Linked DNA regions of Homo sapiens. The protein of the gene in region 1 interacts with the protein of each later gene in a pairwise test. Each region holds a gene or a part of one and is shown in the gene's direction. Other genes may lie near its edges.

What was found.
Region 2: the proteins of RXRG (region 1) and CEBPZ interact in a two-hybrid assay, tested with the Homo sapiens proteins (one large-scale study listed by BioGRID and IntAct).

The regions. Positions count from the first base shown.
Region 1 is NC_000001.11:165,438,482-165,442,133, reverse strand, and holds part of RXRG (retinoic acid receptor RXR-gamma), read left to right. Parts: intron 1-3,652. UniProt on the Homo sapiens protein: Receptor for retinoic acid. Retinoic acid receptors bind as heterodimers to their target response elements in response to their ligands, all-trans or 9-cis retinoic acid, and regulate gene expression in various biological processes.
Region 2 is NC_000002.12:37,211,075-37,214,726, reverse strand, and holds part of CEBPZ (CCAAT/enhancer-binding protein zeta), read left to right. Parts: intron 1-765; coding exon 766-863; intron 864-1,172; exon of another isoform or gene 1,173-1,290; intron 1,291-2,047; exon of another isoform or gene 2,048-2,334; coding exon 2,335-2,392; exon of another isoform or gene 2,393-2,471; intron 2,472-2,687; coding exon 2,688-2,884; intron 2,885-3,552; exon of another isoform or gene 3,553-3,644; coding exon 3,645-3,652. UniProt on the Homo sapiens protein: Stimulates transcription from the HSP70 promoter.

The DNA.
Region 1 (3,652 bases):
ATTAAAATACTTGGTGTATAACCCCCTGCCCTGTTACATATTAGCACATGGAATTACAGAGGGCCCCATGATTTGTATAAGAATCTCCAGGGAAGCAAAGTCACCTTTTGGAAATAACACCTGAGATTTGTGTCTGGGACCATGCTTACCAGATGTCAGAGCATCATCTGATCAGTGAGCAACAGATTGCTCAAACTGGCCAAAGTGTGGTGGCTACGTGGTGGCTCCACAAAGGTGCCCAATCTCCCAGCTTTGGGCCCTACCATGTAATGATGAGAGAAACCTTCTCTTCTCCTTCTCTGCCAAGTCCAGGGTTTGCCAGCTGCTCAGTAATAGGTTTGTTTTTCTGGGATGAGACAGTTGCTGCCTCTTAGAAGATGGCAAAACAAAGCCTGTAATCCCCCCCATCCAATTGTGCAGTAATCCTCAGGGTGAGAAGGAGATCAGGGAGAGAGAGGACTTCTCTCATTTCATTTAACAAACACACTGTAACACTAATGCTCGCTACTATTGTAAGCACTTTACCAGCCTCGGCTCATGTAATCCTCATAACAACCCTAGGAGTAGGTACTGTTACCATTGTTCTCGTACTCCTTTTAGAGACAAAGAAACAGAGGAATTGAGAGGTGAAATAACTTGCTTAAGGTCTTATAGCTAGAAAATGGCACAGCCAGGGATTGAACCCAGGCAGACTAGCTCCCAGAGTTCACACTGCTGAGCTGCCTCTCACAGCTTCTGTGAGTGACACAGTTGCTCTGCAAAGCCAGGGGCAGCAGCACACCCCCAGGGAGCTCCCGGTGCTCCAATACAACCTCAGATATGCAGCCTCAGCACTGACTGGTTGTTGCAGACCCAGTGGACTGGCCATTGAGGAATAAGCCATGGGATAGGTTAAGAGCAACGGTGATCTCTGCAGAATTAATTGGTGGCTTCCCTTGGGTACATACTTATTTGCAAGAGTCCTGTCCAACTGACCCTGACCATTCATGTAGAATAGTTGCTTTCACTTGAAAATAGCCATAGAGAAGGGGTTGAGTTGGACCTGCTTGTATGTGTGCGTGTGCACATGTGTGTATATGCTAGAACATATTTTTCCCCTCCACAGATATGTGGGTGGCTAATTGGAACCTATCATGGGCATAAGTGGTTAAGGTTTATGTGGAAAGGAGTAACTGTTTATGAGATTTAGGAAGGAACATATTTCGTATAAACTATTTTCTAAAACATTTACAATCTCACCAAGAGATAGAGAGCTGAATAGCAACTGGGGGAAGAAATTGTGCAAAGAGAATCTAAATGCCCCACCTCTTCCTTCCCCTCATTATGAAGCTTCTAGGTCTGCAGAGAACTTAGCCACCAGCATTGGATCGCGGGTGTGCCAGGGGCTCCCAGAGGAAGCTGGTGTTTTCTCCTCTTTTTAAAAGTAGAAGACACAGAGGCCCAGGGAATGAAGTTAATTTTCTAGAATGCATGGGCTTTGGTGGCTCTCATGAGATTGACTCAGCCCTGGCTCAGTGATCCTCAGAAAAAAGTGAAAATACAGGTTGAGTATCCCTAATCCAAGCATCTAAAATCTGAAATGCTTCAAAATCCAGAACTTTTTGAATGCCAAAATGATGCTCAAAGGAAATGCTCGTTGGAGCATTTTGGATTTCAGATTTCTGGATTATAGATGCTCAATTGGTAAGTATAATGCAAATATTCCAAAATAAAAAAAAATCCTAAATCCAAAACACTTCTGGTGCTAAGCATTTTGGATAAGAGATACTTAACCTGTATCAACTCGTTTCATAACTAAAACACCACTTTAAGGTCGGTAGTTTTATTACCCCCATTATACAGATGTAAAAACTGGGGGACAGAGAAATTAATAATTTGCCAAAGGGAACTTGGCTAATAAATGATAAAAGTGGCATTTGAATATGAGGAAAAGCAGCAGATCTGGATTTTAATCCCAGCTCTACCATGTACTATACTGTACTACTCTGTAAATTCTTACAGCAGTTACCCAGCACAGACCTTCCTGCCCCTTCCCAATTCAATACTTGGCCTCTCCCAGGATTTTGACCCTGGCCTTTCTCACTAGAACACTCCACATCTTGACTCTATCTCTTCACAATTCAACCCCTAGTTTGGGTTCCCTTCCTCAGGGCTCCCAGCCCAGCCTAATCTTCTTCTCCCTCCTCTTTCCACATAACAGCCACTCAGACACCAGGGATTAGCTAATATGCATTTCTTATATTTGAATTATTATCAGCATATTCAAGGGGACTTTCCTATAAACATTTAGGCTGCACAATCACCCTGAGATGGAATGGGAAGGTATTTTATAACTGTTTTACTGGTGCAAAGCTTTACATTTTAACCGATGTAGAAAACAAGATGTTAGACATTAAATTTCCAGTGAATGGGGAGCAGAGAGAAGCTTTCTTCTGATGGGAAGGAAACCTTCTCTGCTATGGAAGCCCTTTCTGGCTTCCTCAGTGGGGAAAAATCAAGGAATGTGTTGGAGAGTGGAGAGCATGTAGAAGAGGCCCTCCTTCTGCCCCCAGAGGCTCAGGCCTCTCAGCCTCTCAGTGGGAATGTGAGAATGAAAGCATGCATTAGCTGATGGGTTGACGCTGCTGCATGCTTCACGCAACCCCAGTTCGGACCAGCTGGCTAGCCTTTCGAAGCCGCACAGGGCAGTTCCACCTGGATTCATGTAGCCCCCAGAGAAGGGCTGATGAGCTGCTCAGGGTGGGAGCTGGGGTTGCTTCCGGTGCTTGAAGGAAGGGGGAGGGAGAGAGTGGCATCCCTGCCTCTCTCCCTCTCCTCCACCCCCCTCCTCCCCTCGCTCCCACTCCTCCCATCTTCCTCCACCCCCGCCCCCCTCCCCTAAAATCTGTAATGATGGAGGTAGTGAAAAGCAGGGAAAGATTGATAATCAGCCTCATTATTACCAGCATTATATATAATTATAGCAAAACCTCACTCATTTGGATCAATTGAGAGAAAAATCAGTCTAAATTCGTGACAAGTTGGCAGATTACTTTTAAATTACAATTTTATTACTTCTAAGTAACACATGTGAACAGTTTGTGTTTCAAGTACCACAAGCTAATGGTTACTCAGTGGGGATTTTAGAAAACCTGCTTTAAAAGATTCTTTTGTAATTAACACCCCGTTAATATGCCAATGTGCTCCTTCTATGCTTTTTAAATTGCTTGAAAACATATGTATCTTAAATAGGCTTAACATTTCTACCATCTTATTTGCTTAACAAACCTTTTTTATTATTATTTTGTGAATGAACAAATACAAACTAGTTTATACCATGACCAGTTTAGTCACCACTCTGAATTAATTATGTTGTAAATTAATAAGACCATGTTGGTTGTTTTTGTTTAGAAATCAGACTTTTAGAACTTGAAGAACCACCTCATTTTATAGAAGAGAGGTTGAGAGACTTGCCCAAGGCCATATAGGCAAAAACAGCAGGTCTTCTGGCCCCTGGGTCCAAGTTTATTCCGTCTGCTAGATAATGCCTTACATTCCTAAAACTCTTTATGAATATGTGCTATTTATTTCCATACCAATCATTGGGTTATCTGTCAAAAAATATTTGGTGAGTGTCTATTCTGTGCCAAGCCGTGTGCTTAATCCCCATATA
Region 2 (3,652 bases), on another chromosome or scaffold:
ATGCTTCATTTTATGAAATCTAATCAGCATATTTTGAAAAGATCAAAGGATATGTCTGTGTTTGTTAAGAAAATTTACAAATCCGTCATTTTGCTAATCTTAATATATCTTAGTAAAACTAAAGTAAATTTGGGAGTTTTGTTAATTTAGCATATAAATTTTGTTTTATGCTTCTTTTTGGAATTTAGCCTTTAATTTCCTTTTATAATAATTTTCTTTATAGGCTTAAAATCTACCTTTAATATAGATTTTAATATAATACTTTAAGTTTAATATAGTGATAACTCATGGGTAATTTATCCAGACCATGGCCCTTAGAATGGATTCAGTGCACTGTTATAGAAATAAGTCCTAAACCAACTAGTATCATAACCTAATGCCTTAGGGTAGTAAAGTACCTCTTATCTCATCTGGTTGACTGGTTAATTAGGTTTGATTTGGCTTGTTTTTTAAAATCATTTAGAATGAATAATTTTGAGGGTTTGATTACATCTGTAAATGGCTAAGTTTTGCTGTATTCTAATATAAGAATAGGGCTGATAAAATATTATCTTTGAAATGTATTACACTTAAAAGATTCCAGCTACTTTTTATTGAGTTAAACTATTTTTTGTATATTAGATACAAATTTCAGTCATTTATTTCCAATTGAGTATACTTAAGATTTTACAGTTGTGGTTTGCCACTGGTCATAGGTGCTTTGATGATATATAGTAAGATTAGACCTTTAATAAAATTGTCAAATATATAACATGAATATTATAGGTATTATAAAAAAGTTGCTGTTAAAGAGAAACAAAAACGGGATGCAGATGAAGAAAGTATAGAAGACGTGGATGATGAAGAATTTGAAGAGCTGATTGGTAATTTGTTTTGTTGACTCTTTGTAAAATAATCTACTACTATGTGTTAATAGACCATGGAACATTAGTGGGAGAAGTGGCCTTAGTTTTAAAAAATCACTTAGCTAAGAATATCATGCAAATCACAGTGGAAGATTAAGAAATATTTGGGGCCAGGCGCTGTGGCTCACACCTGTAATCCCAGCACTTTGGCAGGCCGAGGCAGGAAGATTGTTTGAGGTCAGGAGTTCGAGACCAGCCTGGCCAATATGGTGAAACCCTGTCTCTACTAAAAACCCCAAAAAATGAGCTGGGCATGGTGGCACGCACCTGTAGTCCCAGCTACTCGAGAAGCAGAGGCACGAGAATCGCTTGAATCCAGGAGTCAGAGGTTGCCGTGAGCCAAGATTACGGCACTGCACTCTAGCCTGGGTGACAGAGTGAAATCCTGTCTCAAAAAAAAAACAAAAGAAACAAATATTTTTATGATATATGGTAATTCACCCACATTTGCACCAGAAAAATACATGATTTGTGCTTTGGATAGTCTATATAAGAAAACATTTATATTTGCTTAAGTCTATTCAATTGTTACAGCCAAATCTCATGTGAAAAAGAAATCCTTTTTACTATTCATAATCTATTATAGTATATCAGTACTAATTGATAGCAATAGTCTACTGTTTGATCTTTTTTATCTTTAATCCACAGAGCTACAGAAATTTTGATTGAAACTTAATAGACTTAAACAAAAAACATGGTAAATTGGAAAGACTTACACTGATTTCACGTTACATATTTTTTTGTTGTTGTTTTTTGGGGGGTTTGTTTGTTTGTTTTGAGACAGGCTCTCTCTGTCTCCCAGGCTGGAGTGCAGTGGCACAATCCCAACTCACTGCAGCCCTGCAGCCTAGACCTTCTGGGCTCAGGCGATTTTCCTGCCTCAGCCCCACGGGTAGCTGGGACTACAGGTACATGCCATGATGTCCGGCTCGTTTTTTTTTTGTTTTTTTTTTTGTTGTTGTTGTTTTTGTTTTTTTTTTTTTTTTAATAGAGATAGGGTCTTGCCGTGTTGCCCAGGCTGATGATCACTCCACCTCGGCCTCCCAAAGTGCTGGAATTACAAGCATGAGATGTTACATATTGTATCACACCTATTAAAAATGAGCACTTAAGTAGTTCTAATAGAGTAAAAAGGACGACAATTGCTAAATATCATTTTATTTGATATTTATCCTCTTTCCATAAAAGAACTGTAGAAAGAGCCGAAATTAACTGGATCCTTCTTTAGTTTTGGGATTTAACTAAGATCAGTATTTCACAGGTTTGTATACATTATTAAGGCACACTAGCAACAGTAACATTTACATTGTTTTGGTGTTCACTTGTCATAAACAGCAGAATCATGACTTAGAATAATTGATTCAGATACAAGATATATGTCAAGCTTGTCATTCTTTGTTGTATCTCACATTTCTGTATTGTCTGGCAGACACATTTGAAGATGATAACTGTTTCAGCTCTGGAAAGGATGATATGGATTTTGCTGGGTAACATACTTCTATCTTCTCCTTCCTATTTTTCTAGCATTTCCCAAATTGTTGTCCCTCAGAACAGTAGACCACAGAACTATATGATAAAGGGGAAATGTAGTCAAGTAAGTTTGGGAAGTGGATACAGTACTTTCATCTTTGACATTTATAAAGCACGTTATTATTTACTCTGAGCAGTCTGCAAAGCTTTCTCCTTCTGAGTCATTTAATAGCCTACTGCCCTAGTAGTCAGCAAAACACTACTTTAGAAAATACTGCCTCCTCTTGTATTACAAGTTGTGTTTTTTTCCAGAAACGTGAAAAAGAGAACAAAAGGAGCTAAGGATAACACATTAGATGAAGATTCAGAAGGTAGTGATGATGAACTTGGTAACCTGGATGACGATGAAGTTTCTTTAGGAAGTATGGATGATGAAGAATTTGCTGAAGTTGATGAAGATGGAGGAACATTCATGGATGTGTTAGATGATGAAAGTGAGAGCGTTCCAGGTAAGCATTTTTTAAAATAAGACATAAACTGTGTCTTCCTCACTTCCTTAGCCTTAAGTTTGTTTTTCTGCTAAAGGTTTTTAATATAGCCCTGTATTCAAATTAATACTCATGTCAGCCAGAAACTTAAAAGGACCTTTTCCCTTCTCGTTTGGAGCTGAAGGGTTTTTATTGTGTGTTATGTGTGTTTTCTTTTAAGCAGCTTTTTGAGCTTTGGACTTTTACTTTAACCAGCAGCTAGCTTCTCTGTACAATACATGTTGAGCTGAAATGCTGCCATTTTTTGATAGTAATTAGCAGTTTATAAAAGTTAATCAGTATTCATCATAGCCCAGCATAGATGAAGGTGAATATTTTATCTTGTAAATTAGCAAGGAACACCCAGAATTGTCTCTAGACTGTTGTCTGACCTTTCTGTCCTTTCACATACCTCCAGCATGCACATGCCTGCCCAACATTCTTCTTACTTATTCTGAACCACAGCAGAAGTTTCTTGTTTTAAGGGGTTTTATATTATTTGGTCTTATTAATGAAGCTATTTAGAAAATTTTGTACTTGCACAAAATATTAGAACTGTGCCAATTCTTAGAGTCTTTTTCTCAGTCTGTCCTCAAGCCTATGCTAGTGGAATTACAAAACCCACATGGAATAGCAGTATAGTGCCTTACCATCAGAATAAAGATTTTAGCATATCTTGGAGTAATATTTTCCAGTCTTATTGTTTTTAAATTGCTTATTAGCAAATTTTTTCGTGTAACAGAACTTGAA